Homo sapiens: one gene and its partners. The protein of the gene in region 1 interacts with the protein of each later gene in a pairwise test. Each region holds a gene or a part of one and is shown on either strand. Other genes may lie near its edges.

Region 1 (10,957 bases):
CCGACCGTCTGGGGGGCGAGTGGGGGGAGAGCCAGGGCAGTGCGGGGCCCGGCGGGGGCAGCAGGCGCAGTTCCCTGCGGGGGTGGGACGTCCCCGACGCTTCCTTCGCTGCGGAGCCCGGGGCTAGACTCGAGCGGGAGGGGGTTGGGGGGATGCAGGACAGGCGGGTTGGGCGGCCGGCGGCGGCTCCCCGGCTACCTGTGTGGCCCTCGACCTGGCTCAGACCCCCGGGCAGTCCCTGGGGGCTCTTTCCTCGGCTTTTAAGGAAAGTTCTGAATGTAGTGAGTGCCAGAAGCTCTGCTCTCGCCGCGGTCCGCTCCACCCGCTCATCGTGGGGGTCGCGCCGTTTGTTTAATTCCTGGCAAAAGGCGAGCGGGCCAGCGGTTGCGAGGCAGGTAATTCCGAGGTGCCCCGGGAATTCCGGACATGCGGCCGTCGTGGTGAAAGTCCTGCCGAGGCCGCGGCGGCCCTGGAGGAGGGAGGCCCCCTAGGTCCCAGATAGCTGCTGAATGGGGAGGGAAAGTTAGGGTACCCTACTCTGGCGCTTTGTTGTGCAGAGGGCTCCGGGGGCGTCCGGCTGCAGACTGGACCGGGCCTTTAGCCGGAGGGGGAATGGGGCAGCCACCTCTGCTACCTACAGCGGGGAGGTCCTGGGAATGGGAAAAGGTTCGCGAGTCCGGGCCCCGAGGACAGAGACCTTCTCTCTCACCCCTGGAGGCGCAGGATTTAACCCCCCACCCCCCACCCTTTGAAAGGGAGGTTGAGTTTTGCTCAGGTCGAAATCAGTTTAAAACTTAAGGACGAGGCGCGATTATGCTATCCCCTTCCTGAAGTTATTCTTTAAGGAGACGACAAGCGAAATTGTGGCGAACACCCCTTTCTCCCACCCTTGGGATCCCGTGGGGGACGGTGTCTCCCCTCCCCCAGGACCGCTCGCTCGCCCACCCCCGATAAGCCCCAACCCTCCCCGACCAGATGGCTGGTCTTCCCAAGGTTTCCACCAGGGAGGTCCTCCCAGCCGGAGAGAGAATTCCGTTTCCAACCGAGACTCCTTTACCCCAAAAAGACCATTTGTGTATGCGAGTCGTTTTTAAATGTCTCCTCGTAGAAAAACTGAAAGTAGAAAGAAAGGAAGCAATTTCTGAGCAGATGTCTGACCACCCCTTCTCGCACACTCCCAGCATCGGGTTACAGGGTCCTGGGAGCCCCCACCCACATTCTGCGGCCCCACACGGATGGACCCACAGTCCTTCCGCTCCAGCTTGTGCGCGACCCCTGAACGCCCTCCGGCACCCCTGGACCCCGTCTCCCTGCACGTCCGGGCCTCAGGAGGCGGGGAGGGTAGCGGCGCAACACAATGATATAGGGATAAATATTAAGCCGTGACATTGACGTGCCCGGCGCCTCCCCTCCCCCGCGCTCCCGGCACACTCTGGGCTGCTCGGCACGCCCCCTCCCGTTCCACTGCGTCCCGCGCCGCTCGCTCATCCCCGAGGGGCCCCTGCAACCTCTCCGCGCGAAGACGGCTTCAGCCCTGCAGGGAAAGAAAAGTAACTTCGCTTTTCTCGGAGGAACCAGGAAGGATTAAGCGGCTTGGGAGAGGGCAGGAGCGCGCGGAGGGTAGCGATGGAGGCTTCGTAAAGGAGGAGGAGGGGAGTCTGGAGGAACCCCGAGGAAGGCTTCTGGGCTGTCTGATTGCACTTTCTTCTTATCCTCCCGTCTCCTCCTTTAGGTGCAATGATTCTGGACTGAGACGCGCTTGGGCAGAGGCTATGTAATCGTGTCTGTGTTGAGGACTTCGCTTCGAGGAGGGAAGAGGAGGGATCGGCTCGCTCCTCCGGCGGCGGCGGCGGCGGCGACTCTGCAGGCGGAGTTTCGCGGCGGCGGCACCAGGGTTACGCCAGCCCCGCGGGGAGGTCTCTCCATCCAGCTTCTGCAGCGGCGAAAGCCCCAGCGCCCGAGCGCCTGAGCCGGCGGGGAGCAAGTAAAGCTAGACCGATCTCCGGGGAGCCCCGGAGTAGGCGAGCGGCGGCCGCCAGCTAGTTGAGCGCACCCCCCGCCCGCCCCAGCGGCGCCGCGGCGGGCGGCGTCCAGGCGGCATGGAGAAGGACGGCCTGTGCCGCGCTGACCAGCAGTACGAATGCGTGGCGGAGATCGGGGAGGGCGCCTATGGGAAGGTGTTCAAGGCCCGCGACTTGAAGAACGGAGGCCGTTTCGTGGCGTTGAAGCGCGTGCGGGTGCAGACCGGCGAGGAGGGCATGCCGCTCTCCACCATCCGCGAGGTGGCGGTGCTGAGGCACCTGGAGACCTTCGAGCACCCCAACGTGGTCAGGTGAGCCAGGGAGCTGCGCCCTCGCCATCTGGGGCCTCGCGCGCGCGGGGAGGGCCGAGCCGGGAATCCTCAGGCCCAGAAAGGTGCGGGGCAGAGGGCGACTGGGGAGGTCCTGCGCGACCTGTTGGTCTTACAGAGTGAGAGTTAAGTTTTGTCGACAGAGCCGCGAGCCAGAGCCGGTGACCTTGCCAGACAGCGAGCCGAAAGACAAGTCAAAAAAACATGACCTGAGCAGGCTTCCCTGCAGCTGTGCAACTTAGAAGCGTTTTCTCCCTGCCCACCCTGAAGGAGGGTCTGGGGGAAGTGGGTGCGTTTTAGGGACAGGATAAGCCAACCTGAGACATGCCCCGCTAGCCCCCGCATATTTTTCGTGGCCATGCCGTTGGGGAATTTTTGAAAGACAGAGTAGGTGAGACTGGAGAATGAGGATGCCGTGTGATAATCAGTGGGAACTTTATGGGTGGAGCCAAGTGTAAATCAGGTTAACAAGATGCAGAAACATCATAATATTTTTGCCAGTCATACTCTCAGTTTCTCTTTATTAAAGTTGCGTAGTAAGAATGACTCCTGGTGGTCTAAGGAGTTTGAGTGCTGATGCCCAATCTCAAACAGCGTCATAAAAATTTCTTCCAAAACTGTTATCCCTGTGTCTGTTTTACTTTATATCTCTGGGCGGACATACTCTTTAGACTAATTCTCCAAAGGGTTAAATGTGAGTCCAAGATGTGGTATGGTTAGATCATAAATGTTCTGCCCATGCTTTTCCCAGATGGATTGTGCGAGTGGGTGGGGAGACAGCAGTTCTTACTCTCTCCTGTGTGGTAACCAGTATTAAATGAAAATGTGTGACTTAGGATAATGGTGTTTTCTTAGTGATCCTGGAATTTCCCCATTGTGTGGTTGACATTGTTTGGTTGTGTCATCCTTTTCTTTTTTAAACAGAGATGCATAGCTTTACATTGAAAAGGAATGCCTAGAAACTTCTGCAAATTGGGTTGTGATTTTACCTTTCTCGATCTTGAGAAAATGTGTAGCAGAAATATCTTTTTTCTCATCCATTTAGGGCTTCTGTTCAACAAATACATGCCTACTGTGTGCGCTGAGGATGAAATGATGTAAATAAGCACAGCTAAATATTTTTGTAAAAAGTCAAACAATTTAACATTAGTCATCAAAGTGGAGAGACCCAAGACTGACCTTTGAAATACCAAACTCTCTACAGACTCAGAGAGACCAAATATCTACAGAATCTTCTTGGGAGGTTTTAACTTGTCTCCTCTTATCCCAGGCTGGTGATTTGTGCGGTGCTTTGTTCCCAACGCAGTTTAGACTCAAGCTAGAAGGCATCAAAGAATCATAAATATATAAATAAGGCAGTAAATGGTTATAAAGTTAAGACCGCATTATACCTCGGCCTAGCTAGTGAAGGAGAATGAGTGTTTTAGAAGATGAGATTATATATAAAAACCTATAGATGACTTTTTTTCATGTGTATTTTATTTGTTAAAAACAACAAAATCCGTTTTTGGGGCTCTTTGTGATATTGGAGGGAAAAGGGGAGGGTATATTTAGCCCCCTGTAACTCAGCTGTCGTCCTAGGGGAATCACCTAATACATCCCGAAGGATGAATTCCACCACTACAATTTTAAGACGGAAGTTCTTGTTTTATTTTGTCTGTTACCTATGGAGTATCCAGTTAAGGGTGCTTATCATGTATATGAATGAATAGTGTCCTTCCAAACGTAGAGGTACTACAGAGGCACCCCTGTATAACACTATTGTTTACAAAGCTTACGCCATTCTTATACCAGAGGCACACTTTCTGCCATTGTGCTTGTAGATTTTGTCTGATCCATCCTATTCTCTTGATTTATCCTCCTGAGATTGATGTGTTTCTAGACGTTTCTAACTGACCCATGACTTGGATTCTGTACTGTGAATTTCAGGAGGATATTCTTATGAACTGAAGACAAAGGCATTGTTTTCTAAAATTATTTTTACGTGTTAAGGTGATGATGGCACCTACCTGTTAAAGTCGTGAGAATAAAATGAGATGGCGTATGTGAAAGCACTTTGTAAATTTGAAAGTACTTCAGATATCTAAAGGATTGTTTGCGTTTCAGCAGATTGATGGTCTCTTGCCATGGAGCAGCTTCACAGGGAGGGGTCAATTCACCTGACCTTTTTTGTAGAACAAATCATATTCAAACCCAGACATTACAGGCTCTGGAACCAAGAAGATCCTTGAGGATAATTAGCCTGTAAGATGTCAGAAAAGACTCTCAGTCACGAGCCATGAAATTCAGTGATACTTGAGGAAATTATTGATGATGTCACCCTCATGAGCTACAGATCTTCATTCCCTTTTTGTTTCCTTCCTGTTTCTTCTCTTCTGCCTCTGCCTTGAAACAACCATTGGTCCCCATGACTTGCTTGGCCAGACTAAGAATTCTGGATTTTAGAGGCTGCGAATATTTGCTCAGACAGGGTCAGGAAATAAGGACAGTTGACAGCAATTCTTTTCTTTCCAAGGGAGAGTTGTCAAAGTTGGGTCCCCAAACCTGTGATTTACTATTGCCCCTGGGATTAGTTTTACAGTCTTAAGCCTGGTTCTTTAATGGTTTCTTAAAAGGGCAGATGCTTTTATAAGTACCTTCAAGTCATAAGTAATTGATCATAATTATAGGCCCTCCCCCACAGATAGTTAAGCCTCTAAGCTAACAGGAGCATAATAAACATATTAGTTTTTTCAAAAGTTTAAGATTTAATTTTGATGGATTTGCCAGAAAAGCTGACTTGTTATTGCTGGCACTGGTACTGCCTGCATGCACAGGGATAATGACTTGAAATTCTTGCTTACCTGCATTTGATGTATCCCAGGCCCTCGCCTGATCAGCCAGTGAGTGTCTGGGAAGTAAATTTACTCTTTTTTTACATTTGGTAATCCCAAATCCTGGAACCTTTGCCAGAATAGGACTTCACTGTGAACCTGTATTGGAGTTTCTGCACTGCACAAATGGATCCTGTTTGAACAGCCTGAACTAAAAACAATAGAGATAAAATTATAGCATGTTTTGTCAGCAGTCTGTTCATTCACCAAATATTTACTGAGGGTCCACTATGTGCCAGACTCTTCTAGAAGGTGGGGATATAGCAATGAACAAGCCTGGAAAAGTCTCCGCACTTGTAGAACTTGCCTTGTAATGAGATGAGCAGTTCTTTCTTCTCTTTAAAAATTTACTCATCTTTGTTTTAATTGCCTTGTTTTGTTATACTTAACCTAACCAGTTTTATAGAACAACTGATATTTCTGATAATTCGGTTACCAGGAATTTCCTGATTGAGTAGGCAACATAACCAAAAGGCTAATCAGAATCAAGTGCTTTTTGAAGATTAAATTTTACCTCCCTAACATAGGGATTGATCTATATGAGATACTGACACATAGCTAATATAAGTGAACATTTGAGCTCCATTTATTCAAAAAGGATTTAGGAAGGGCATATGCTTTAAAAACCATGGGGCTAGGTGCTGGGAAAGATACCAGGGTAAATCATACCTAGCTACTCTCCTGAAGCAGTTCTTCCCATGTTTGAAGGAATAAGATGATCACCATAACCCTGATACATGATAGGATCATGTGCTGTAAGAAAGATACAAGCCAGTGCTTACCTGTATTGTTTCTAGGGATTATATTTATTAGTGTAACAGTAAAAGCAATTCAAATTCAAGTATTGGCTCTGGAAACTAAAAGTCATTACATATCAGTGAATAAACTTGTGATGTTTAAATATTATAATTAGAATAGTCACTGCTTTAAAAACAAAACAAAAAACCCAAAGAAAAGGCTGTAAAGCTTAATGATTATTCAAGGAGAGTTTTCTAATTTTCTCTCTTTTTTAAAGATCTTAGTAATATATTGCATAAAAGGTGAGTAAAAATGTGATTTTCTCTGGAAAACCTAATTGTTAACAGGGTAAAAGAAACATGACATATTTGACTCTGTAAAGCCAGGTCTTCAATTGGATTAGTTCATGAGAATCCTTCTGAATAAAATTGCTATTTGTGTGGTTGAATAATACATTTACTAGGGCTTTTTTCAATAAAAGCAGGAAAAGCAGGAGTTTAATTCTCCTTTTAAATATCAGTATGTTAAAAGTATGTTTGTTCTTTCTGTCTCTGAGAGTTCCTTGAAAAGTTTCTGATTTTTCAAGGTTGTTTAGTAAATAAACATTTTCACAATGGTATTCTGCTCATTTTTTGTTCCTACAGAAGAACTTGATAATGCTGAATTTTTGACATTGCAGTTATATCCCTTTTATACAACCACTATCAACATAGAATTATTAGAATCTCTCTATGGAATCAAGGACAAAAAAGGTCTATAAGAGGAAAACTTGTATAAACTTGAATATCTTTGAGGATATTTTCCTATGTTTAAGACATGGGTAAATGAATATCTATGCAAATAGGTTCCTATTAAAAATAAATTATTTCTTTTTTAAAAAAACAAATGTCTCACTATTAATGATTTCTTAGGAAAGTTTTTTAAGAAGGAAACACAGCATACATGCAGCCTATCATTGTAAAACCATGGATATTAGGGTTGGAAGACACTCTGGAGGTCAAGCTACTTGTCTGTCATGCCATTTTAAAGTTATTGACTTGTTCTTAAAACTAAGTAGCAATTTTTGTTTGTTTGTTTGATGGAAGCAGTTAAATCGGGTGAGTACATTTCTAGTTTGGAAAAAATGAACTGTATGTAGACAAAAGTGACAGTTTGCCAGGAATGAATGACATAACGATAAATGAATAAAAATTCAGTAAATTCCTGAATTCTGCAGTATGCCATACTGAAGTATATCTCTACAAGAGTATTATTCCAGTAAATTCTTCTTTTAAGGAAGTTGTGCTATAATTATGATAATTTAAATTAATTATAATAATTTAAAATAGCTATAGTTAAATGATGATACAGGTAAATTATGCAGGTAATTCATTAATAATATTGAATTCATTTTAGACAAAGAGGAGTAGGAAAAATTGAAACACTTAGTACTTGTCTGATGAATGAAATATTACATAATGTGGCTCTGGCACATTATGTAACATTCTGGTTAATGAAATAAAAACATCATAATACTTAAAAATTAGATGGCATAATAACCATCAGACACATAAGCAAATATGTGTTTTCCATGCCTTCTGAGGAACTAATCACACTATTGTTCTTTCTCATGAGGTTCAGATGAGTTGCTCTGTCTTCATAGGAAGTAAATTAATTGTGAGCTTCTTGATGTAACAGAACACAGCAGAGATGAAATCTGGGTGTCAGTGAATTGTTAACAGGAGAAGTTAGTGTGTATGATGTTGGGCTTTGTCCAAGATCCAGGAGGCAGCACTGAAAACGCACCGGTGGTTGATAACAAGCATACTTACATGAAGGTCACTATTTGAGTGATGATCCATAGATGCTAGGTTTGGTGGAGCAGGCAGGCCAGCAATCAGAGAGATTTTTCCAAGAGCTGCTGGGTAGTTTTCTTGAATATCACCAGTTTGCTGCCATACCTGATTTTTATTTTACCAGCTGCACATGTAGCTGCTCTTGCCTGAGAGGTGAACCGGAGGGACTGCAAGGCATGTGGCAGGAATCTATGCAAGTGTACAGTTGTAGTCTGGAAGTCCATTTGAGTCAGGATTATTATTAAACATTTTTGACCATCTCCTTTGTCTATAGTAGTTTGCCGAAATTTGGATATCTACTGGCTTTGTAATTTAAGTAGCCACTTAAATTATTCCTATTCTCTGGCCTTCCTAAAGGATTTAGTTCAGTAGAATTAGAATCACAGCATAAGGATTTTTTTAATTGGAAGAAGTCTTAGATTTAACCTAGTGCAACCCCCTTTGATCTGTTTTATAATAATAAAATTTGAGTTGTTTTATGAATGCAAAAAATTATCTCACTGTTAGTGAACAGTTTTATTCTGTGATTGTATGCATTGTAGATATAAACTGATTGAGGATGGCTAAGATTCAGACAGAGGTTTATATTAAACATTGGTAAGACAGGATGACTGATGGTCATTGGATATACCAGAAAAAAATCCCTTGAGATGTAAAAGTATTTTCAGTTTAGTGACTTTATGTTTGCTGACTTGAGAACCAGGATTGTGTATTTTATATCCATAAATAACATGGTGTCCATAACCATTGGTTAACCCGTATATGTTTCCTGATTGATTGAAATTTTAAACCCCTTAGATAAGCACTTTTCATCGTTTTAGAGTTGTATACTGCATTAGCAAGTATCTTGGACTATTGACATTGGGAGATCTGTGGGTATTAACTGTAAGGCATACACATGTGAAGTCTATTTAGTAAGAGTCTTCAAATACTTACTCATATTTAAACTTTTCCTGACTATGCATTTTTTATCTTCAATATTGTACTTGCTTTGGCTTTGACAGGATATTCTCATGTTCTTCCTCTGTATTTGTTAACATGTATCCTACAGACAGATGGACTACTCCATTTGCCCTAATGGATTTCTTGCCATCCACCTCTATTACTTTAATTTGAACAGATCTCTGAATGTGCACTTGGTACCTCTCCTGCACCACTCTCCACCTGTTGAAATTCTGCTTATCCTTCAGGGCCAACCTCAAATGTCACTTTCTTTGTTCTGTATTCCTTAATACCTCGATTTGGATAACATTTCTGCTTCCTTTGAGTCCTGGTAACTTTGGACCTCCTTTATGGCACTTAGCTTGTATCTGTCCCCTTATATTATTTCTGTTATGTAAGATGGAATGTTAACTCCCATGACAGCCCTCTTCTGACTCTCTACTCTTTCACACCCTATTTGTAAGCTCTTTAAGGCAGAGAGTGTCTTGTGATTACATTCGTTTATATCCTGTATCCATTGGATATAAGGTGAATACGTAACAAGTGAGTGAAATCATTGAAAAGGGGTCCAGTTATAAAGGAAGACACCATATGAATTATTTCTATCATGTGAAATAATGTTAATACTAAGGAGTGTCAAGGAGGGAGAACGGATCTGCATATTGGATTACACTTATTGGGATTCCTGGGAAATAATTTAGGAAATACTGAAAAAAGGAAGTTTCATTTTTGTCTTACTCCAATCTACATAGTTTATATGAAAGTTTAAGTATAATTCATTCTTATAGTTAACTGTGCAACTTTGGACTTAATTTATATACTGCAAAGAAGACATTAACATTAGGAAATGAGCATACATTCAGCAAAAGCTGAAAATGATTTGAACATTTCAAATGTAAGAAAGTAAGGTATTATAAATACATTTTGATCAATTGCTTGAGTTCTTTTATTTTTCCCATTAATTTTAATTTCTTTGGCTTTCAATAGTGGAAAACCTGTTAGCAGAATTAGGTAAAACCTTCCTAATAATTTCTATAAAAGATGATGATTCTGAATTTCATTTGAGCCTTGTCTTCTACTCCTCTTCATAATTTGTGTACAGAGAATTTGGATTCCATCTTGACAAACTGGTAGGTTTAATTAAGAAGTATACTTCCAGTTTGAATTCATTCCAGTTTCTTAAGACACATATGGTTGGGGTGTGTGTGTGTGTGTGTGTGTGTGCACGCATGTGCATGCAGAACAGTGGAGTACAAGATTCTTGAAAGAAGGGACTGTGTTGTCTTGTTCCTTGCAGTATCCCAAGCATTTAGCATGATGTCTGGTGTCTTGTAACCCTGAATAAGTATTTCTAAATGACAGAATATGCGCCATTTAGAAATTCAGAATTTAATTTTTTTTAGTTAGAAATGAGTAATCATGTCTGAAAATACAGGTGAGGTCTCTGGCATTCAGCAAGTATTTATGAGTATCTGTTATATTCAACGCTTTGTTAAATGGGATTAAGGCAGTAGTCACAAAAAGTGCATATTGAAATGTTTACCCAAAAAATGGTATGTGGTCTGCAATTTGTTTCACAATGGGGTAGAGATGCAATAAGAATGAACTATGAGTTGATCACTGTTGAAACTGTGGAGTTTTATTGTACTAGTCTCTCTGCATTTATATATGTTTGAAATTTTCCATAATAAGTTTTTCAAATGTTCCTGCTTGTGGGCTAGGAGTCAGAAAACTGATTCTTATCCTGATTCCTCTGCTTATTATTTAATAGTTGAGTAACCTAGGGTAAATTCCTCATGTCTCTTGGCTGCCATATCCCCACAATAAAAATAGAAATTACTACTGCTCTTTAGACCTTAGTGGTTTACTCTGATCAAATGAAATTATGTATACAAAGATCCAATATTATACAAATATAAGGTATTATTAACAAAATGAATTCCTGCTTTCAAGTAGTTTATAATTTCCTGGAAGAAACTGACATGTACACAGATATCTGTATTACTGATTGGTAGCACTTTCATTCCACCTCACGTTGTGAAAGTATGAATGGAGCTAGGTACTTCTGAAAAGATGTGTATTGAGTTTATAGTAATTAAAGTAAAAAATAATCTTTCATTTGGGTATTGGATATTGGTGTCGTGTTTACCCAGTGGTCTTTCCTGTTTATTAATGGGTTTATTGTGAGAGTATCTGTGGACCAAATGCTGCTGAGAACA
Region 2 (10,957 bases), on another chromosome or scaffold:
ATTTATGTAAACAATTTGCAGTAAGACCAGAAAGCAAATTTGAAGTGTTATTATACTATAGAGGACTTCGAATGCCAGGCTCAAGGAATGAAAGTTTTTCTTTATGGTAGAGGGAATATCTTTGGAGAATTTATGAATAGCACAGAGATATGACTAAAATAGTGCTTTAGACACATTTACTTGACATGTGATGGGTTTTGGACTGGAAGCAAGGAGACCAGTTAGAAGACTATTGCAATAGTGTGAGTGTGATGGGGCAGAAGGTAATATAGATATCAGTTTGGAGTTGAAGTAACAATTTATTTTCTCCTTTATGTTCTTCATCTGTTAGAATTCTTTTTTAAGGTCAGGTGTGATGGCTCACACCTGTAATCCCAGCACTTTGGGAGGTCAAGGCAGGCGGATCACCTGAGGTAGGGAGTTTGAGACCAGCCTGACCAACATGGAGAAACAACGTCTCTATTAAAAATACAAAATTAGCTGGGCACGGTAGCACATGCCTGTAATCCCGCTACTTGGGAGGCCAAGGCAGGAGAATCACTTGAACCAGGGAGGCGGAGGTTGCAGTGAGCCGAGATCGCGCCATTGCACTCCAGCCTGGGCAACAAGAGCAAAACTCCATCTCGGGAAAAAAAAAAAAATTCTTTTTTAAGTGGCATACTGGGGGAAAGACCAAACACATTATTTGATTGTAGTAGCTAATACCTTCCCTGGACTTTTCTTATGAAGGTGGTGTGTTCTATACCTCAAACTGTCCCCAGTCATGTGGCTGGTATCCTTGTCTTTGCATCCCAGGAATAATATTGATCAGTGTAGACACAGCATATGTCTCACCGTCCCTTTCTGAACTTCTCACTGCTGCTTCAGCTCTTTCAGAGAAAGTGTCTTCCCATCATCAAATGCCTTTTTCCTATGATGTGGCCTCTGTTTATGTAAGGCTCCCTCGGAGTAGATTACTGGTTCAAGGGCCCCAATTTGCACTAAGATCTGAGAAGAGCTCATTCCAACGTGCCAGCCACCCCCTTCCTCCTTCCTCCCAATGCTCAAATCCCCCATTCCTCCTTTAAAAGTAAGAGATTTGTTCTTCAGGTCACACTTGGAATAGTGTTTCCTGACTTCGTCCTATTTCCTAGATATCTGGCTAATTTCTCATTTTAGTTCTTCTCCCCAGCTAGAACCACTCTCTGCAAAAAAACCATGCCATGCCCAAGTCCTTTCTACAACTCCTCTACCATCCAGTGCAAATGCATAAAAAGTAACACACACAAACAGGTACACACACAGCCTAGGGTAAAGCATGCTCTGTTTTAAAGGAAGTGTCTTCCAGAGCCTGTGACTCTTCTCTGTTCAAAAATAGCACCTGCGAGTTAAGGTTTGGCCAGGAGCGTGGGATGAATTTCTTGCCTGCATCTCCCCAAATCACCCTTAGAGGTTCAGGCCTTGTCAGCGCCCATTTTATTGCCAGGAACATCCCCAAGCCTCTGAGTCCTGAGAGGCGCAGGTCTCTAAAATTCAGTACTCTCCCTTGAATCATCCCCATACTCTCTAATGGCTTCTTACACTTAGCATACTATCCAGAGCTGGTAAGGCCCTGTGGCTTACCCCCTCCATTGCTCATCTCCCTCCATTGCAGGTCTTGATCACTCCGACCCAGCCAAGCTGACTTGCTTGCTCTTCCTTGAACAAGTCAAGGTCCACACTTCAGGTCGTTTGCACCTGGTGTTCCCTGTGCTTGGAAAGCTCTCCCCTTCCCCGACGTCCACATGTCTTGCTCTCTAAATTTACATTCAGGTCTCAGCTTTAATGTCCCTCTTTATAGATGTCTTCTCTGACTGCCATCTCTGATATGGTCGATATGGTGCCCCCACCACCTTTTGTCTCCTTCCAGTACTTTTCTTCTTCCTTTTTTTTTGAGATGGAGTCTCTCTCGCTCTGTCGCCCAGGCTAGAGTGCAATGGTGTGATCTTGGCTTACTGTAACCTCCACCTCCCAGGTTCAAGTGATTCTCCTGCCTCAGCCTCCCGAATAGCTGGGATTACAGGCACGTGCCAACATGCCCGGCTAATTTTTGTATTTTTAGTAGAGACAGGGTTTTGCCATATTGGCCAGGCTGGTTTCAAACTCCTGAACTCAGGTGATCCACCCGCCTTGGCCTCCCAAAAGTGCTGGGATTACAGGCATGATCCACCGTACCCGGCCGTCTTTTTTTAAATTTTTAAATTTTTTTTATTTTTTAAAGACAACGTCTTGCTCTGTCGCCCAGGCTGGAGTGCAATGGCGATCATGGCTCACTGTAGCCTCGAACTCCTGGGCTCAAGTGATCCTCCCACTTCAGCCTTCTGAGCAGTGGGGACTACTGGTGCACACCACCATGCCCGGCTAATTTAAAAAAGGTTTGGTTTTGTTTTGTTTTGTTTTTAGAGACGGGGTCTTGCTGTGTTGCTTACGGTAGTCTCAATTTCCTAGCCTCAAGCAATCCTCCCGCCTCAGCCTCCTGAAGTGTTGGGATTATAGGCATGAGCTATGGCACCCAGCCAGGGACTCTTTTGACTAAGGGAGAGATCAAGATAATCCCCACTCCCTGAAGCCCTGTGCATTGGGAATTTAGATGACTGCTCATTTCCACATCAATTGTTACTTCCCATCTCTCAATTCTAGTGCTGGACCTACTATTAGGTTCTATACCTAAGAGCAGCAATTGTTGCTTTTTTCTCTTTCCCCTTCCAGGTTAGCACGATTCAAAGGGAGAATCTGTGTCCACTTGAGGTCCCTTATGTAGCAGGACTGCCCTGTAAATGTCTTCAGGAACCACTTGGCTCCAGTTGGAGCCTGGTCCTTTTTTGCTGGTTCAATAGGATCTTTCCATATGTTCTTTACAAGTATCTTTTTACACTTATTACTCATTCAGTTATCTTTTCTCCTTCCTCTCGAGTTGTGGTTTAAAATATGTATAATTACAATTATAAAGAGATATCTATCTATCTATCTATCTATCTATCTATCTATCTATCATCTGTCATCAAAGATATCCTGGCTTCTCTCCACACTACCAAATACTCTTTCTTATTTTTTAATTATAATTTTTATTTCAGATTCATGGGGTACACGTGCAGATTTGTTACAAGGGTATATATTGTGTGATGCTGAGGTTTGGGCTTGTATTGACTCTGCTACCGAGATAGTGAACATAGTACCCAATGGGAAGTTTTTCAGCTCTTTCCCCTCTCCCTCCCTCAGTCCTTTTGGACTTTTCCAGTGTCTATTGTTCCCGTCTTTTTTTTTTTTTTTTTTTTGAGACGGAGTCTCGCTCTATCACCCAGGCTGGAGTGCAGTGGCGCAAATTTGGCTCACTGCAAGCTCCGCCTCCCGGGTTCACGCCATTCTCCTGCTGCAGCCTCCCGAGTAGCTGGAACTATAGGTGCCTGCCACCACACCAGGCTAATTTTTTTTTTTTTTTTTTTGTATTTTTAGTACAGACGGGATTTCACCATGTTAGCCAGGATGGTCTCGATCTCCTGACCTTGTGATCCACCCGCCTCCGCCTCCCAAAGTGCTGGGATTAGAGGTGTGAGCCACCATGCCTGGCTGTTCCTGTCTTTATGTCCATGTGTACCCAAGGTTTAGCTCCCACTTATAAGTGAGAACATGCAATATTTGGTTTTCTGTTTCTGTGTTAATTTGCTTAGGATAATGGTCTCCAGCTGCATCTATGTTGCTGCAAAGGACATGATTTATGATTTCATTCTTTTGTATAGCTGTATAGTTTTCCATCAAATACCCTTTTTTTTTTTTTTTTTAGATGGAATCTCATTCTGTCACCAAGGGTGGAGTGCAGTGGCACATTCTTGGCTCACTGCAAGCTCCGCCTCCCGGGTTCAAGCGATTCTTGTGCCTCGGCCTCCTGAGTAGCTGGGATTACAAGCATGGGCCACCATGCCTGGCTAATTTTTTGTATTTATTAGAGACGGGGTTTCACCATGTTAGGCTGGTCTCGAACTCCTGACCCTCAGGTGATCCACCCACCTAGGCCTCCCAAAGTGCTGGGATTACAGGTGTGAGCCACTGTCCCTGGCCCAAATACCCTCTCTTTCTTTCTTTCTTTCTTTCTTTCTTTCTTTCTTTCCTTCCTTCCTTCCTTCCTTCCTTCCTTCCTTCCTTCCTTCCCTTCCTTCCTTCCTTCCTTCCTTTCTTTTTTTGAGACAGAGTCTTGCTCTGTCACCCAAGCTGGAGGGCAGTGGCATGATCTCTGCTCACTGCAACCTCTGCCTCCCGGGTTCAAGCAATTCTCCTGTCTCAGCCTCCAGAATAGCAGGGATTACAGGTGCCTGCCACCACACCTGGCTAATTTTTGTATTTTTAGTAGAGACGGGGTTTCACCATGTTGCCCAGGCTAGTCTTGAACCCTTGACCTTGTGAACCACCCGCCTCAGCCTCCCAAGTGTTGGGATTACAGGCGTGAGCCACCGCACCCGGCCCAAATACCCTTTCTTTAAATTGAAACTTTATTTTATTTTATTTATTTATTTTTTTGAGACGTAGTCTCGCTCTGTCGCCCAGGCTGGAGTGCAGTGGCTTGATCTCGGCTCACTGCAAGCTCTGCCTTCCAGGTTCACGCCATTCTCCTGCCTCAGCCTCCCGAGTAGCTGGGACTACAGGCGCCCGCCACCACGCCTGGCCAGTTTTTTGTATTTTTAGTAGAGTTGGGTTTTCACCGTGTTAGCCAGGATGGTCTCGATCTCCTGACCTCATGATCCGCCCACCTCGGCCTCCCAAAGTGCTGGGATTACAGGCATGAGCCGCTGTGCCTGGCCAGTAGTTGCATTTTTAGTTTTTCTTTTTTAAAATAAATTTGCAAACTGTTTTCCAGTATGGCTGTACCAGTTTACATTCCCACCAGCAAAGTATGACAGATTCAGTTTCTCTGCATCCTTACCAGCATTTGGTGTTTTGCATGCGTGTCTGTGCACGCACACCTATACACACACATATAGCCATTCTGATAGGTGTGTAGGAATATCTCATTGTGGTTTTAATTTGTATCTCCCTGGTGCAAATTAAATGGTGAGTTGGTCACAAGTACTCCAGGTTGCCGGTAGTTCCTTTTGTGTGTGTGTGTGTGTGTGTGATTTTTAAATTTCAAATATAAACATATATATATATATATATATATATATATTTTTTTTTTTTTTTTTTTTTTTTTTTTTGAGAGGGAGTTTCACTCTTGTTGCCCAGGCTGGAGTGCAATGGCGCGATCTCGGCTCACTACAACCTCCACCTCCTGGGTTCAAGCAATTCTCCTGCCTCAGCTTCCTGAGTAGCTGGGATTACAGGCATGCGCCACCACACCCAGCTAATTTTGTATTTTTAGTAGAGACAGGGTTTCTCCATGTTGGTCAGGCTGGTCTCGAACACCTGACCTCAGGTGATCTGCCTGCCTCAGCCTCCCAAAGTGCTGGGATTACAGGCATGAGCCACCGCGCCCGGCCTATAAATATATTTTTAAATTTTCTTTTTTTGGTGGAAGTGCTTTTTTTTTTTTTCTTTTGACATGGAGTTTTGCTCTCGTTGCCCAGGCTGGAGTGCAACGGCATGATCTGGGCTCACCGCAACCTCTGCCTCACAGATTCAAGTGATTCTTGTGCCTCGGCCTCCCAAGTAGCTGGGATTACAGGCATGTGCCACCACACCCGGCTAATTTTTGTATTTTTAGTAGAGACGGGGTTTCGCCATGTTGGTCAGGCTGGTCTCAAACTCCTGACCTAAGGTGATCCACCTGCCTCAGCCTCCCAAAGTCAGCCACCGCGCCTGGCCTAAATTTTCAATCAATATGTGCCAAGTGATTATTATTTAAAAATATTAGCTTGAGAAGAGTTCTCAGACTCAATTTTATTGTCATGAGCCTCTTACAGTGAGGTCTCACAGACTTCCTTTTTCCTTCATGCCACTGACTCTGAGACCATCTGGCACTGTGACACCTCTGTTGGGTAATCAAGCCATAAATCAAAATCTTTAGTCTCCAATTCCTGTATCGCCTTTCTCAAAACGCAGCCTGAGTCTGAAAAATAATGTACCTGTAACCAAGGACTCCAACACCTATTTAATCATCTATCAAACCTGAAATAAAAACCCAATTTTGGCCGGGCACGGTGGCTCACGCCTGTAATCCCAGCACTTTGAGATGCTGAGAGGGGCAGATCACATGAGGCCAGGAGTTTGAGACCAGCCTGGCCAAGATGGTGAAACCCCGTCTCTACTAAAAATACAAAAGTTAGCCGGGTGTGGTGACACATGCCTGTAATCCCAGCTACTTGGGAGGCTCAGGCACGAGAATCACTTGAACCCTGGAGGCAAAGTTTACAGTGAGCCAAGATTGCACCACTGGACTCCAGCCTGGGTGGTGGAGTGAGGTTCTGTCTCAAAACAAAACAAAACAAAACAAAACAAAACAAAACAGAACAAATCAATTTCCAGGTGATTCTATTTCGGAAATTGGAAGAAATTAGGGACTTTTGATCAGTCCATGCATTTTTGTCATAGACTTCAATTCTTTTCCAGGAAATAGTTTTGGGTATTTTTTTTGTTATTTATTTATAATTTTAGTTTAATTATTATTATCTTTTTTTGAGACAGGGTCTGTCTCTCTTGCCCCTGCTGGAGTGCAGTGGCATGCTCATGGCTCACTGCAGCCTCAACCTCCTGGGCTCAAGTGATTATCCCACCTCAGCTTTCCTAGTAGCTGGGACTACAGGCATGCACCACTACAGCTGGTTAAACTTCTGTATCTTTTTGTAGAGACGGAAATTTCCCCATTTTACCCAGGCTGGCCTTGATATCTTAGGCTTAAGCGACCATCTTGCCTTGGCCTCCCAAAGTGCTGGGATTACAGGTGTGAGTCACTGCCTACAGCCTGGTTTGTTTTTTAATTTTGTTTTGTTGTTATTGATTGTTTTTATTTTAAGGAATTTAGTAGCTCTAGATGCAGGCTTATCTTCAGTTTTCCACAGCCCTTGCTCACTTTCTTTTCATGGGAATGGCCTGGGCCTACCGTAGAAAGCATACTTCACAGTATATGGCTAGCCCTCTATATGAAAAATAAAACGTCAGAAAGTGTGCAATCCACCTCTCTCCAGCCTTAAAGGTGCAAAAAGCCTCAGAGTCACTTCAAAAGTGTTCTGACTTTGGAGACATATTCCAAGGACTGGCTCAACTTAGGTTCTATGTTATGCAACTAGACATTCAGCTAACAATTTGGCAGTCATGGCGAGGAAACATACACATGAGGCTCAATTCAAGGGTAGTAACTTAGTACGAAATGCAGTTGGTTCAAATGATTCTGGCTGGGATGCCAAATATGTAATTGAGATGTTTATGTTACCAGTATTATTAGTTCCCTTTTTCCTCTGTTAAATAGCTATTTACACACACACACACACACACACACACACACACACACACGTATATACAACACACTAGGACACCAAGTGGGTATTTTTGCAACCCAAACTAAAAATCCATAAGCATATGCATGGCAAACCGAATAGTAGAGATAAGAAAGAGAAGTATTCTTACACAGGAGGCTCTCACCTCCTCAAAATTCCCAAGTTGACATTTAATGTCAATGATGTTCATGCCATTGAAATAAACATAAAACAGGCATCTTTCTAACCCTCTGAAAGGCTGCCGTAATAACAGTGCTTAACGTTTATGAAGCATCTGCTGCGTCAGGCACCTTGCAAATGTTTTCCATTCATTGTGTTACGTGAGTCTTCCGACAACCTTGTGGAATAGGCAATCTTAGGGTCTACATTTGACAAATGGGGAAACTGAGGTCTAGAGAGGTTAGGAAACTTGCCAAATGTGTTAGAGCAAGTAATTGGCTAAACTGGGATTATAACCCATTTTTCTCTGACCCTAGAGCCTTGGCTCTTGATTGCAACACTGTGTTGCTTCTTTAGACTAGACTGAGATTCATGGACCATTTTAAGTTTGTAACCACCTTTGAGAGTCTGAATGGAGGACGTGGTTTTGCCTGGTTTTACTTCCTCCTCTAGAGTGCGGGGTCCATATTCCTCTGATGATAAGGGCCAGGAGAGCCATCTAAACAAAGTACTGCTTAGATCACTCCAAAGCCGGGGCCACTCACACTGCACCCCAGGAAACTGAACCTCTGTCCTTTCCAGCCCAGACTTTCTTCCACGGAGTGACACTGATTAGTTTGTAGGCCAGGTGAGGCATGATTTCATAACCATGGAGTAATCTGACCAGGGTCATGCAGGGGAGCAGCAGGCCTGCGGTATATAAATTCTCAAATACACATCTTCCATTTATTTCCTTATTTCTTTCTTTAAAAAAAAAAAATTTGGCCTAGGCATGGTGAATCATGCCTGTAATCCCAGCACTTTGGGAGGCTGAAGCAGGAGGATCTCTTGAGCTCAGGAGTTTGAGACCAACCTGGGCAACACAGAGAGAACACGCCTCCACAAAAAAAATAACAAATGAAATAAAATTTTAATTTTTTAAGAGACAGGGTCTCACTGTATCACCCAGGCTATGTACAGTGACATAATCATAGCTCACAGTAACCTGGAACTCCTGGGCTCTAGTGATCCTCCCTCCTCAGCCACTCAAGTAGCCACAGGTGTGTGCTAACACACCCTGCTAATTTTACATTTTGTAGGAATGGGGTCTCACTGTGTTGCCCAGGCTGGTCTCAAATTTCTGGCTTCAAGAGATCCTTCTGCCTTGGCATCTCAAAAAGCTGGGATTATAGGTATAAGCCACTGCACTCTCTCTCTATATATATAAAATCAAAGCCCCACCAATGCCACCTCCTTTTCTATTTTCCAAACTACTCCACCACCATGGTCTGCACCACTCCCTGTGAGGCCCCTCAAAGCTGTCCATGCCCATGTCTACATTAGGCTTCTCTACCCATCGTGTCATAACATTTCCTGTATTTCCATTTCTTTCTTTCTTTTTTTTTTTTTAAGGAGTCTTGCTCTGTCACTCAGGCTAGAGTGCAGTGGCGTGATCTCGGCTCACTGCAACCTCCACCTCCTGGGTTCAAGCAATTCTCCTGCCTCAGCCTCCCAAGTAGCTGGGATTACAGGCATGCGCCACCACGCCCAGCCAATTTTTTTTTGTATTTTTAGTAGAGATGCGGTTTCTCCATGTTGGTCAGGCTAGTCTGGAACTCCCGACCTCAGATGATCTGCCCGCCTCAGCCTCCCAAAGTGCTGGGATTACAGGCGTGAGCCACCACACCGGGCCTATTTTTAATTTTTATTTTTGAGACAGAGTTTTGCTCTTTTGCCCAGGCTGGAGTGCAATGGTGCGATCTTGGCTCACTGCAACCTCCTCTCCCCAGGTTCAAGTGATTCTCCTGCCTCAGCCACCCGAGTAGCTGGGATTATAGGTGCCCGCAATCACACCTGGCTAATTTTTGTATTTTTGGTAGAGACAGGGTTTCACCATGTTGGCCAGGCTGGTCTCAAACTCCTGACCTCAGGTGAACCACCTGCCTCGGTCTCCCAAAGTGCTAGAATTACAGGCGTGAGCCACCGCACCCGGCCTCTAAGAGGCTTTAAGAAGTGACTTTCCCATTGTGCTTAATCATTTTTGTTGAAGCCTTAAGGCAGACTACCTTGTTTGGGATTGGGCATCTGGGAAAAGAGATTTTGGCAGAGTCCTTAAAAATCTTGCTTTTCTTGGGTACAATGAGCTGGTCCAATACAATTAATCCATGAGAGAATCTTCAAATTCCATTTTCTGAGATGATTTGGAGGTTTGGAATAATAGAGCACTTTTTCTTAGCAACTCATTTGATATTTGAGTGTTGTTTGACATAATCATATCTTGGTCAACAGGTCCTTCAACCGGTGACCCCACTCTGAGGTAAGAATAACACTATCACAGTGCCCATTTAATTTGATCAAGAATCAATGGGTATTTAAGAGCTGTGCATGGTGGCACATGCGCCTATAATCCCAGCTACTCAGGAGGCTGAGGCAGGAGTAGGAGGATCGCTTGAGCCCAGGAGGTCAAGGCTGCAGTGAGCTATGATTGCACCACTGCACTGCAGCCGGGGTAACAGACTGAGACCCTGTCTCAAAAAAAAAAAAAAAAAGGAACTGTGGATATAGCTTTCTTTATTGTTCCTTTTCTCTTTTGCCATTTTCCATTCTTTCTTTCATTTTTGCCTTTTCCAGTTTCATTTTCTATGGTTATTGTTTTTTATATCTTTGCTCTTATGTCTTTTGATCTCTTTAAATAAATGATTTTCTAGCTTGCTTATCTGTTATTGTCTTACAATTTCTCTTCTTTTTTTAAATCGCATGCTTTTATAGCCATTAGTGAAATACCTGGGAAACTCATTTGTCACTTTAACTTCATCTTCGTTTTATAATGTCTGCCCATTTTTCAGACATAGGACAGGGAAGTCATGTTAAGGAATATATTATCTCTTGATAGGTGGAAGGATTGATCTATGTAGTAAATGAATGTGATACTTTAGGGATGAGTGGGAACTATTAGGATGTAATAAGCTTGTGACTTAACCATATTGCAAAGAAGAGTCTGCAGTTCAATTCTGAGTTTCCCTTGAGTTACAGCTTTCAGACATAGAGAGTGTTAAATCTAAAGACACCACTGAGAGCAAGTAGAATTTCTTTCTTATAGGAGTTAGTATATAGAATCCTAATGTGGAAGAATCTTGAGGCTAAATTGCTCTTTTGTCTGTTCTTGACAATACAATCTTGTTGGCAATTTGAGGCGTCAACACTTGAGAAAATCTGGTTAGAGTCCATTGAGGAATAGAAAAGATAAGGATTGGAACATAGCACCTCTAGGTGTAAAATAGAAAAGTTAGAATATAGCTAGGCATGGTGGGGCACACCTGTGGTCTCAGCTACTCAGGAGGCTGAGGCAGGAGAGTAGCTTGAGTCCAGGAAGGGGAGAT
Region 3 (10,957 bases), on another chromosome or scaffold:
CCGCCAACCCTCAGGCCGTGCAGCTATTTGATGGGAAAAGCTGGTTGTGAAAGAGCTGGCAGTGGTTCTGCAGTGTGTGGGGAGCGTATTTGTGTGTGAAAGGGGAAGGGAGAGCAGGAGAACATAGAGGGGCCGCGTAAGTGTGGCGAAGTGGCGGTCTTGCTTTATGGGGCTCTGGATTAAGATGGTGGCAAGGCGGAGAGGAGCCCTCCTTCCTTCCCTGCTCAGCCTAAAATGGCTTCTGGAAGAGCAAGGGCCGCAAGCTGCTGGTATCCCTCTGCAGCAGGTCCTGGGCAGTGCAGGCATGGGTGGGTTGGGCGGGGGATCTTCCTGACTACAGCTCCTAGCATTCCTGTTCCTGGAGTTTCCAAAACTGGGGAAGCAGAACTGAGCCATAGCTTCCCTGGTTGCCGCTCTGCTGATAGAACACCCAGGTCTGCAAGCGAGGAAAGAAGGCCATTGGAGATGACCTGGGTTCGCACTCTGGCACTGGGAGATTGTTGAGATGTGATACCATGCTCGGTGGATGATTCCAGTTAGTCTAGCAGAGCCAATGGCATTGAGTTTACACCTGGCACCGGGTAGGGGGAGGTGCTCACCCTCCCTCTCCAGGCACCCACATCCCCTCTTTCTTCACTAGAAGCCCACCCTAAGATGCTGCACCTTGGTATTTGTGCCACACACGGTAGCCACCCCCAGGCCTCCCCACGCCAAGGCCAGAGCCCCATTGTTGACTAGAACCCATTGTGCTGTCCTAGCCCCTTCCCTGGCTTTACCTACAGGTGTTCCCTCAGATTCCATCGCCAAGTGAGAGGGAGACAGTGGTGGCCCAGAGAAGTTCGATGACTTGGCCCTTGATCTAGAGTGGGAGATTTCGCCTTGATGGGTGCTGGGAAGGAAGAATGGAAACCCGTCTTTCCATCTGCAAGTCTCTGAGCTACCCCTGAAGCCGCGAGGTCATGGGACTGAGGGGGAGTCGTTAGCATGCCCTGTGGGGACAAGCAGCCAGGCAGTGTGGTGCTTGCCATCGCTCTTCCCTCTGGCTGTAAGATGAATGGGTAGCAGGCTGCTCATCGCCCTCCAACCAGCCCCCTCCCCAGCTCCTCCCAGCAGGCCTTGCAGTTGCATGGGCATTCCCTTGCCATGGCAGCCCTGCCCCACAAGGACAGGGTATGCTGGTCCTCTTATGGGGGTGGCAGATGAGGTGCGTGCCCAGTGACGTCCCTGGCCTGTGAACACTCTGGTTCTGGCCCTTTGAACTTCCACCTGACTGCAGGTTGGAGAAGAGAGATGGGGAAAGCCTGACCTGGCCTTCCCTTTCTTCTTCAGCGTCAGAGTGCGTATCTCTCTCCCCCTATTGGTGAACAGAAGCAAAGCCATCACCCCTGCACCCCAAGACCTCGGCCACCATAGCCAAAATGATGGGTGCTAAATGTACTGGGCAGGACCATGTATTCCGTGGTTTTAAACTTACTTAGCTCTGAACTCTTTATTTGGTAAAATCCTACCAAGAAGTGCAGATACCAAGTTGATGAAATGGAGCACTTCTCAGGGCCCATGCCCAGGTGAGGGAGCCCAGCGGGACCCCCAGAGGCTCCCAGGGCATCCTTGGGAGGATAAGCCTTTTGTGCTTGCTGGTGCCGGGGCTGCGGCTGGGACCCAATTCCTTTGATTCCTGAGCCAGAGCGCCACCTTTGGGGCTCTTCTCCCACTTCCGACGTGAAAGGCTGCCCTGTCCTCCTGAGTGGTATATGGGAGGTGACTTTGAGGAGCTGGTCAGCTTCCAGTAAGTTACGAAGAGCTCTGCATCCAGAGTCTCAAAGTCTCATCCGGATCCCAGGCCCAACACTCACAGTGAGTGACATCAGCCAGATCACTTCATCTCCCAAGACTTCATTGATTCACCTGTAAAAGGAGATGTTTGAAACAGATGAATTTCAAGCTCCTTTTTATTAATACCTCACCATCATCACCGCCGTCATAAGCAAGCATGCAGCCCACAGCAGAGCTGCCCCTGGCGCCTGTGGGTCCAGCTGGGATTCCCCTAAGGTGTGTCCTTTGCCTCCACCATTTTGCCAGGAGGGAGGCGGGAATGTCGGGTGTTCCTGGTTATCTGGGCATCGTTCCTTGGCTCGGGTGAACTGCATCTCAATGAATTGTGGAATGTGCTGGGTTAGAGTTGCCAACTTCTCTCTTCCATTCGCTGAGTGTTCATGGGGTTCTTTTCATTCCCCTGTGGGGCTGCACTTTCTCCCAGTTCTGCAAAGCAGCAGGAGGCTTTGGGGACTCGATGATGTCATTTCTGGGACACATACACAACTGGATAGTGACAGATTCTCCAGGAAGCACAGAGCCCTCATTCTTCCTGGCCTGCTTGGCCTGCTCCCTGCATCTGCCTGCAATCCAGGGATGCTGGGCGCCTTTCTCCTCATCCCTCCAGACGCTGGAGAGCATCTCCAGTCGGAACTCCCCACCACAGTCCTGCAGGAAGTACTAGGAGTGAGAGCAGAGGAGGGGCAGGTTGGGGAGGATGCTGGCTGACATTCATTGCTTACCTTGAACCAGGCACTGTGCTTTTACAAGGATTATTTTAAGTGAATCCTCAGAACAGCACTACAACGTGGGTATTGCTGTTGTCATTATTTGCAGATCAGAAAATGAAAACTCAGAGAGGTCAGGTAACTTGCTCATCTTCACACACTTGGTAGGTGGTGGGATGGAGATTCCACCTCCTTCTGATTCCAGAGCTAATACTCTGAACCAGTGAGCTGTGTTCTCCAGAGGTCTGCTTTGGTTGGAGGGGAGCTGGAGCCCTAGGCCCTGGGACGGCCTCTGTTGCCCATGGCAAGGCGTGTGGCTGCTCCTGCTCTCTTCAGATCTCCAGATGCAGCAACCTGGAGAAAGGCCCTCCTGGGTCTGGTGGGGACTGGGGCAGGAGTGGAGGCTGCCCAAGCTCCGTGCACTCCACGTTCCAGCTTGGAGCTTTTTGAGTCTACTCTCCAAATCCTTCCCATCTCCCTGAAGAGTCTTCTGAGAAGTGTCTCAAATGCTCCTCTTCACTCAAGAGCCTCCTTTCTTTTTTTTTTTCTTTTCTTTTTCTTTTTTTTTTTTGAGACAGTCTTGCTCTGTCACCCAGGCTGGAGTGCATGGCACAATCTCTGCTCACTGCAACCTCCAACTCCCGGGTTCAAGTGATTCTCTTGCCCAAGCCTCCAGAATAGCTGGGATTACAGGCGCGTGCCACCATGCCTGGCTAATTTTTGTATTTTTAGTACAGACAGGGTTTCACCGTGTTGGCCAGACTGGTCTCGAACTTCGGACCTCAGGTCATCTGCCCACCTCGGCCTCCCAAAGTGCTAGGATTACACTGTGAGCCACTGCGCCCAGCCTTCAAGAGCCCCCTTTCTTTGAGAAGTTTCTTCAGAAGTTATCCATATAGTAGTACAGACCTAGCCATTATAGCACACCATCCTCTACTATCTAATGCATTGATGCCCAGCCTTAAGAAGTCTGAATATTGTACGTTTTGGGGGGAGTCCTCCATGCTGCCTGGAACAGGGAGGAGCACATTGTCATGAGTCGATCAGAATGGATCGCTGATCGGTTCATTGCCTCTCTCTCTGCTGCAGGAGGAAGGATCTCAGGAAGTCACCAGCATCTCACCTCTCCAGGTGGGCAATTAACGATGGCGAGGGCACACCCTCACCCCTGAGCGTGCCTTCTGCACCAGCATATTGCTTGTTGGCATTTTTGATCAAGAGACTTAACAGACTGCTGAGAAATTTGTACCTGGTTTTTATTTGTTAAAATAATATTACGTACAAATTTTACAAACTCATCTGTGTTTCTCCCACCTAACAGAACAGCTTTTATTTTCCGTGCATCCTTCCAGTTCATCCATAGGCATATATGTATGTATTTACCCATGGTTGTAATCTTCATCGTCGCATGCATGCATGCAATTTGGTTTTCCGCTTCCTTCTTCTGAGTGGATATTGTGACCATTTCTCCATCCTGTCATAGCGACAAAGCTGATGGTTTCCAGGAATGGCTGCATTGGGTAGGTGGAGCTTTCCACAGTTGAGGGTGGGGGTTGGCTAATTACAGCTAGGAAGCTAGTGCACAGATGAAATGATGTTTGATTTTTTTGTTTTTCTCTCTGTTCAGTATCCCCTACCAGTAGAGAGGGGGATGTCCTTGAGAGTGGTCCTGGGGCAGCCCTGGTGCCACGGGGAAGTAGCGCCGCTCTGTGGAGAGGGCTGCTTTGTGAATTTGCCGGCTGGTAGACACCGTGATCCATTCTATTGTCTCCTCATTGTTCTTCTCCTTGGGAGTCATTCCCATTCCAGATCCTCAAGTAAGAGCAAAGTAGACCTGTAAGGCACCTGGGAGGTTATCCTGCTTACTATCTTTAAACTCTTGACCTAAGCCATGTAGGAAGAAACACATTTTATAACACAACTCAGGATACTTGTACAAGTATATCAAACTGATACAAAAGTTTCTCCGAACAATATTTACTCTTAACGACATACGGTGAGCCTGATACTTTCTATCCTACTCTATTTGGTTAAAGGAGAACAACAACAGAAAGTGCTGGTCACGACCCACAAATGCATTTCATGACCCATTAATGAGTTGCAGCTAGAAGTTAGAAAAACACTTATCTCACCCAACCCGTTATTAGACAAATGGGAAACCAAGCCCTTGGAAAGAGGAAGTGACTTGCCCACAGTCCCACGTCTGGACCTAGCTGGAGGGCTGATGTTGCCTCAGTATTTGACTAACCTGGAGGAGAGGTGGGGCATGCTCAGGGATCCCGAGGAAGATGCTCGTCTTCTGTGTAGCGGGCAACAGAGGGCAGCACGGCCGCCGTCCTCGTCTCCAGCGGCGTCTCTCCTCTGGCTGTGGGAACACACTGCTCCTTTGGTGCCACTCTGAGCTGCTGAGAGGCAGTCAAGTTCATGCACATAGTGCTCCCCAATTCTGTGGGATTGGACAGTGTCCCCAAGAGGACTCCCCTGAAAATCTTCTTAGTAAAACAAAAAGGGAGGTAGAGTCTCCCTGTGCAACCGGTGCACCTGTTCCCCCTATGCCTGCTGGCTTCCAGAAGTTCATTCGTATGCCAATAATAAGAGTTGGTTTTGCTAGCAGTGGGACAGCAGAGATGGGCATGTGTGAGGTGTGCTTCCCGGTCTGAGGCCTATGGCAGAGGGAAGGGAGGGCCGGGGATACTTGCCTGCCTCTTCCCTGGCAGATGCTCCCACCCGGGCCTTTGTGGGCCCAGGGCCATGGGCCGGCTGCCCCGCTTGTGTTATGAATGTCACAGGGGGGAGCTAACGAGGTTATTGGGCAGAGAAACACTCTCCTGTGACCCATGTGGAAGAGACCTACAGCAGAGCAAGAGGCAGGGAGGCTGGCTTTGTCACACTGTTCATGGCGACAGAGAAGGCGTAGGAGGGGCGGGTGGACAGCAGGCGTGGGCGCAGCACCATTATATACGTCCCTCAAGAGGTGGAGATGGTGAGAGGGCAATGGAGAAAAAGCCAAGGAGACAGGCAGATGGCCAGGTTTGCTCTGCGTTCATGATGGGAGGGGAGGGCTGTGCTTGGCTCAGGGATCCACGGTGTCTAACAATGCTGCTAACTTGATGCTGGGGCAATGGGCTGACCATTAAAAGAGCTGCTGTAGAAAGTGTGTTTGTAATAGAGTGTGTACAGGAGGAAGGGGAAATAGGAGAGGGGCTGGTTTTTGTAGATTTAACCTGATTGTTTTTGCTGTAAGTTGAAGGGTGACCCACGGTTCCCTGTATGCTGTGTCTCCTGCCCCCACGTGCCCCTTCCATGTCTACACACAGTAAGCTCACTAGAGCAATGCTAAAACGAGAAAGAGTACGCTTTGGAAGACTTGCTGCACTCCAGGACCGTCACTAGCGTGATGGCTGCAACTATACCCACCCTAATATCTGTCAACACGAGCAGGGGCAACTTAAACTCTCAAAAGTCTCAGGGTTCTCACCCATACCATTAGGGTGACGCTCGTGTGCATCTTCTGTGGCTGATGGGTAAATTAAACAGGACGTAATGTGTAGCGTACTGCATGTGGTGGTCATTGGTAGCTGTCAGCAGCTGTAACAGGAGAAGTTGGCTGTCTTTATTTCCCCTCGATGGACCAAGCAGCTGCTGGATCATGGCCACCCAGCCCCTCTGAAGGAGTGCTCGGAGGAACACAAGGGGGCTGGTCTTCCAAGAGGAGCCCTCTAGCATGGCAGTGGACGGGGTTCAAGCCCCTCTGATTTATTATCCTCATTCTGCACTTCCCTGTAGCAAGTCACATTTTTTTCTCTTAGCAATAAAATGGGGCCTTCAGTCTCATGAGTCATAACATCGAAACCGAGTCACCCATCTGATTCGGATGCAATGATTAATCTTCAGTGCTTAGTTAGAGCCCTATGTTAGGGTTAGAATCCTCTGCCCTAATGTTCTGAGGGTTCTTGCTGTTGGGCCAGAGGTTGGGAACTGGGTGGAACTCAGCCCCCACTCGCCCACTCCCTGCATTGCTGCTTCTCTCATTTCCTTTTTTAGATCAAACCTTTTTTTTTTTTTTTTGGGTGGGGGTCATATTAATCCTCAATGCCTGTCCAGAGACTATAACAAGATCCCATCTGAATTAGCATTATGCATAGATTTTGCCCGTTTCTCCCATCTCCTTGTACTTTCCCTCCTTCTCACATCTGGAGCCCCTGGTCTGTCCTGCTTGCATGGCCCATGGGGTACCTTGTCTGCACTGGTCTCAGGCATTCTCTGCTCTGTTCCCACCATCACCTCTAGAGGAGACTATGACTCGCTCACCTTGCTCCCCCCACCAGGGTCAAGAATGTTAACTCAGACATGCTTAATATGACTGGGATCTGGGGATTGGGGACCTTGAATCCTCTGTGCATTCATTGTGTGCGCTTAGATAAGCTGTCTTCCTTCCCTGCCTCAGTCTCCTTCGTTTAATCTGGAACAGCCATGGTGATGGCAAATAAACACAGGCTCCTTGTGAAAGAACTCGAGGGAGGACATGCCTGTAGGGCACGGGGTCACTCGCGCCGCTGACCTGCTGCCGTCCTGTTTCTGAGTCTCTGCAGTCTCGGGAGCTCCAGGATCCAAATTCGTTCTGTGCCCTGACCTTCTGCCTCTCATTCCTTGCAGACTTTAAGTTTGCCATGTACCCACCGTCGATGATCGCAACTGGAAGTGTGGGAGCAGCCATCTGTGGGCTCCAGCAGGATGAGGAAGTGAGCTCGCTCACTTGTGATGCCCTGACTGAGCTGCTGGCTAAGATCACCAACACAGACGTGGTAGGTGGCCACCACCTTCTTGGCTAAGTCCAGATGTCTCTTCTCAGCTCAGGGAAGGAGACGACGGATTTGATTATGTTGTGTCAGAGGTATTTTTCTGGTTTGTTTCCTAAGATCGACATCCAAGGGAGTGCAAAGTTCAGCAGGTGACACCCCCTCTTAAGGTTCTGAAAAGCTGTGCACGGGAAAATACGGAAGAAAACTCAGCAAGCAGATGAAGGGGGTGGGGGTGGGAGGGCTGTTTACCGATGTTCCTTTATGGCGTGGGCTTCTCAGTGGGTCTGAATTGTTGCTTCATTGCCATATTTGTACACGCTGCCAGGCTGCCTCTGCCCGGCAGCGAAGAGCTGCCGTGTCTGCTTTCACACGCTGAGGCTGTAAGGCGCACAGAGGAGAAAGGAGAGCCAGGACTCAGCTGCAGTGGATGGAGCAGACACACAAGAGGTGCCCCACTGTGAGAACGGTGTCCGTCCCTGGCAAACCTCTCGACCCCTCCCCGCTCTCTCTTCCCTTTTGTTCAATGCAGTAATGGATTACAAAGTGCTTTCAAAAGACAAAGTGCCATACAAACTCAAGAAACTATTATTAGCTACGGAGCTTCCCCATTCTGTGTGCCCTGTGGACGGCCCAGAGGCTGTTAACTTCCTGTTGCCAGAATTTGGAGCTCCTGAGAAGAAAGGTTTTGAGAGAGACCAGGGTCAAGTGAGCCTCTGAATTCAATCAGCAGGAAGCTGCAGTCCTAGCCCGTCCGAGACAGGATGGTGCCAAGAGGTCAGAGAGGCCATTCCTTCGTTTTCCACGGGCAGGACAGGGACTGAAGTAACCAGCCAGGAGCGGGGTGGGCAGTGGCTGAGCTGGGGCTAGAACCCCCAGGCTCCGACTGCCCCCTGGAAACTTCCCACTCCACCCTTGTTGCCGCTCCTGGGATCTTTTGGTTTGAAAAAAAACCCTGGGGTTTAAAGTCAACCTGAGAGAGGGGTGTTGGCCCTGAGCCCTCATGCATCACCATGGAGAGGCTGAAGAATGCTGGGCACTTCACGATGACACCCTCTGGATGGTCCGGGGGGATTCAGATGCCCTCTGCGGGCTTTTATTGAGTTAAGGGATCATGTGGTTTATAGGCCTATGGCTGAGGCCTGCACGAGGGATACGGGACAGGTTAAACCTCAGAGAGCCCACGGCTGCAGCTCGCCGGCCTCCTCGCCCGCCCACCTGGATTTTCCCTGGCATTTGTTCCCAGCTCAGAGAAATGGCGCAGGGAGATGCTGACGGAGCAAATCCGGGGTCCTCCTCTGAGATAGTTCGTAGATATGGTTTTAAAATGCGGGCTCCAAACATACGCTTTTTAAACGAGGACTCCAGAACACAGACTGAAAACCTCCCTCCAGTGCAGCATGAAGAATGCTTTTCTAATCCTCCAGAGGAAAATCGTGGACGGGACTTAACGTTTATAGAAATGGTACGCTTTCCTCCTTTTCTGAATGTCTCCAATTAAGGCTGCCTTACAAATAGGACTCTCAGCCAGTTTAAGACAAGCCCTTCCTCAATGCCTGGAGACAAAAATGTCAGTGACAGGAGTTGGAAGCGGCCACCCCCCTCCTCCTGCCCCCAGGCATTGTAACCTTTTCCCCCGATGTTGATAGACCTGCTCTGATGGGCTGACCACCCTACCGGCTCCAGCCTTTTCCCACCTCCCTTTGTCCCCCGTTACTGATCTCACATGGACAGTGGTGGAAATTTCCCTCCTGGGAGTTGCTGCTGAGTCTCTTGGCTTTTCGAGACCGCAGGCAAGTCAGTCCGTCATCTCATCTGGGGAAACTGTTTGCCTTTTTCTGATACTACGTAGCCAGTCCATTTAAGTCAGCTGGCCAACTCTGTTAAATGGATATGAAGTGGGTACGAAGCTGGTTTAGGGGTGTCCTCCTATAAATCCTAACTGTTGGTCAAGTTGATACCTCATTTCTATAATGGGCACACGCCGTGTTTCCTAACTGGGGCTGCCTGTGTGTGCCTCATTCACACCGGTGGACCTGGGTTGAACATGTTCATATTTAAAAACCAAGAGTGAACGCGGTGAAATGTACAATTCATAACACTTTTTCAAAGAAAAATCTGAGCCCTCAGGAAGTTCCAGGCTTACCTCTGGCACCCCGGAGGCTGGTTCGCTCTCCCTGAAAATGTTTTTAGTGGAAAGGTTCAAGCAGCTCTGGGCTAGGCTGTGTGTGTGTGTGTGTGTGTGTGTGTTTATGCACCTTTCCAAGTGCTAAATCTCCTCCCATCCATCAGCCTGTGTTCTCTGAAAAGCTGACGCTCAGAGGGAAGAAAAATAAAAGGACTAGAATTTAGAACACATTAGTGTTTGGAGGGAGGTGAGTTGTGCTTCCTGAGCTCTGTTTACCATTTCACGAGTCACGAAGTGGTGTATTTCCTTCATTCGTTTCTGGAAGTCTTTACTGAAGGCCCAGTTGTTGCTAGAAGTTGGGGTGGATGGTGGCATCTGGGAAATAGAGGATGAGATTCCTGCCTTCAAGGAACTTAGCAGTTGTATGATGAAGCAAGAGTAAAGCGTGCAAAACCCTAGCAAATTAAGAACGTAAACAAAGGTGTGCTACGTAACGTGTTACGAACCCTAAATGCAGTAGGAAATCAACCCAAAAGAAGGAGCTCATCAGGCCTAACGTAGAATGCCGGCCTCCCAGCAGAGAAAACTTGGTGATAGAAACTGTTCTTAGAGTAGAGAAACAAAATGTATGGGCACGCAATGGAATATTATTCAACCTTAAAAAGAAATGAAATTCCGATCCATGTTATAACATGGGCGAACCTTGAAAATACTATGTTAAGTGAAACGAGCCAGACACAAAAAGACAAATACTGTATGATTCCACTTATACCAGGTACCTGGAATAGTCAAATTCGTAGAGACAGAAAGTAGAATAGAGGTTCCCAGGAGTCTGGGGAGAGGAGAGGATGGGGAGTTAGTGTTTAATGCGTACGGAGTTTCAGTTTGGGATGATGAAAACAATTCTGTAGATGGAGAGTTCTGATGGCCACACAGCAGTGTGAATGTACTTAATGCCACTGTACATTTAAAAGTGGCTGAAAAGGGAAATTTGACATTATGTGTATTTATGATAGTAAAATGTGTGTGTGTATATATGTATATACACACACATACATAAATGGATATATATATATGTATGTATGTATGTCTGAAACATTCTCGGGCCACGCTATGAAATGCCCATAGGTTGATGTTGAGCTCTTCCCTGGAAAAGTGAAATACACAGGACCACATTTTGCCCCCTGGCCCTAGTGCATTGACAAACGGGAATCAGGAAGAGCTGACAGTTTCCCCCAGAGCCCCTGAAGTTATATGTCAGCTCCTACACACCTTGCTGTTTCTGATTTCTTCAAGCTTGCAATGCTCTCTGTTACTTTGGGGGTTAGGTCGTGGGTTGTCGGGGATCGAGCTGTGGAAAGAGGGTCCCCCTGATTCTTGTGAGATGGCCAGGCGAGTCTCTGTGGTTCATTGGCCAGGAGCAGATAGCTTTGATATGAGGGACGCATGCGGCTCTGAGAAAGTCGGCCTTTGTTGCTCCGTCTGGTTGC

What was found.
Region 2: the proteins of CDK6 (region 1) and APOBEC1 interact in binary tests that used the Homo sapiens proteins (3 or more experiments, as listed by UniProt).
Region 3: the proteins of CDK6 (region 1) and CCND2 interact in a two-hybrid assay, tested with the Homo sapiens proteins (2 studies listed by BioGRID, with this or other methods).

What each region holds. Positions count from the first base shown.
Region 1 is NC_000007.14:92,824,466-92,835,422, reverse strand, and holds part of CDK6 (cyclin-dependent kinase 6), read left to right. Parts: intron 1-1,463; exon of another isoform or gene 1,464-1,620; intron 1,621-1,732; 5' UTR 1,733-2,099; coding exon 2,100-2,332; intron 2,333-10,957. UniProt on the Homo sapiens protein: Serine/threonine-protein kinase involved in the control of the cell cycle and differentiation; promotes G1/S transition. Phosphorylates pRB/RB1 and NPM1.
Region 2 is NC_000012.12:7,653,542-7,664,498, reverse strand, and holds part of APOBEC1 (C->U-editing enzyme APOBEC-1), read left to right. Parts: intron 1-9,866; coding exon 9,867-9,894; intron 9,895-10,957. UniProt on the Homo sapiens protein: Cytidine deaminase catalyzing the cytidine to uridine postranscriptional editing of a variety of mRNAs. Form complexes with cofactors that confer differential editing activity and selectivity.
Region 3 is NC_000012.12:4,281,646-4,292,602, forward strand, and holds part of CCND2 (G1/S-specific cyclin-D2), read left to right. Parts: intron 1-7,196; coding exon 7,197-7,345; intron 7,346-10,957. UniProt on the Homo sapiens protein: Regulatory component of the cyclin D2-CDK4 (DC) complex that phosphorylates and inhibits members of the retinoblastoma (RB) protein family including RB1 and regulates the cell-cycle during G(1)/S transition.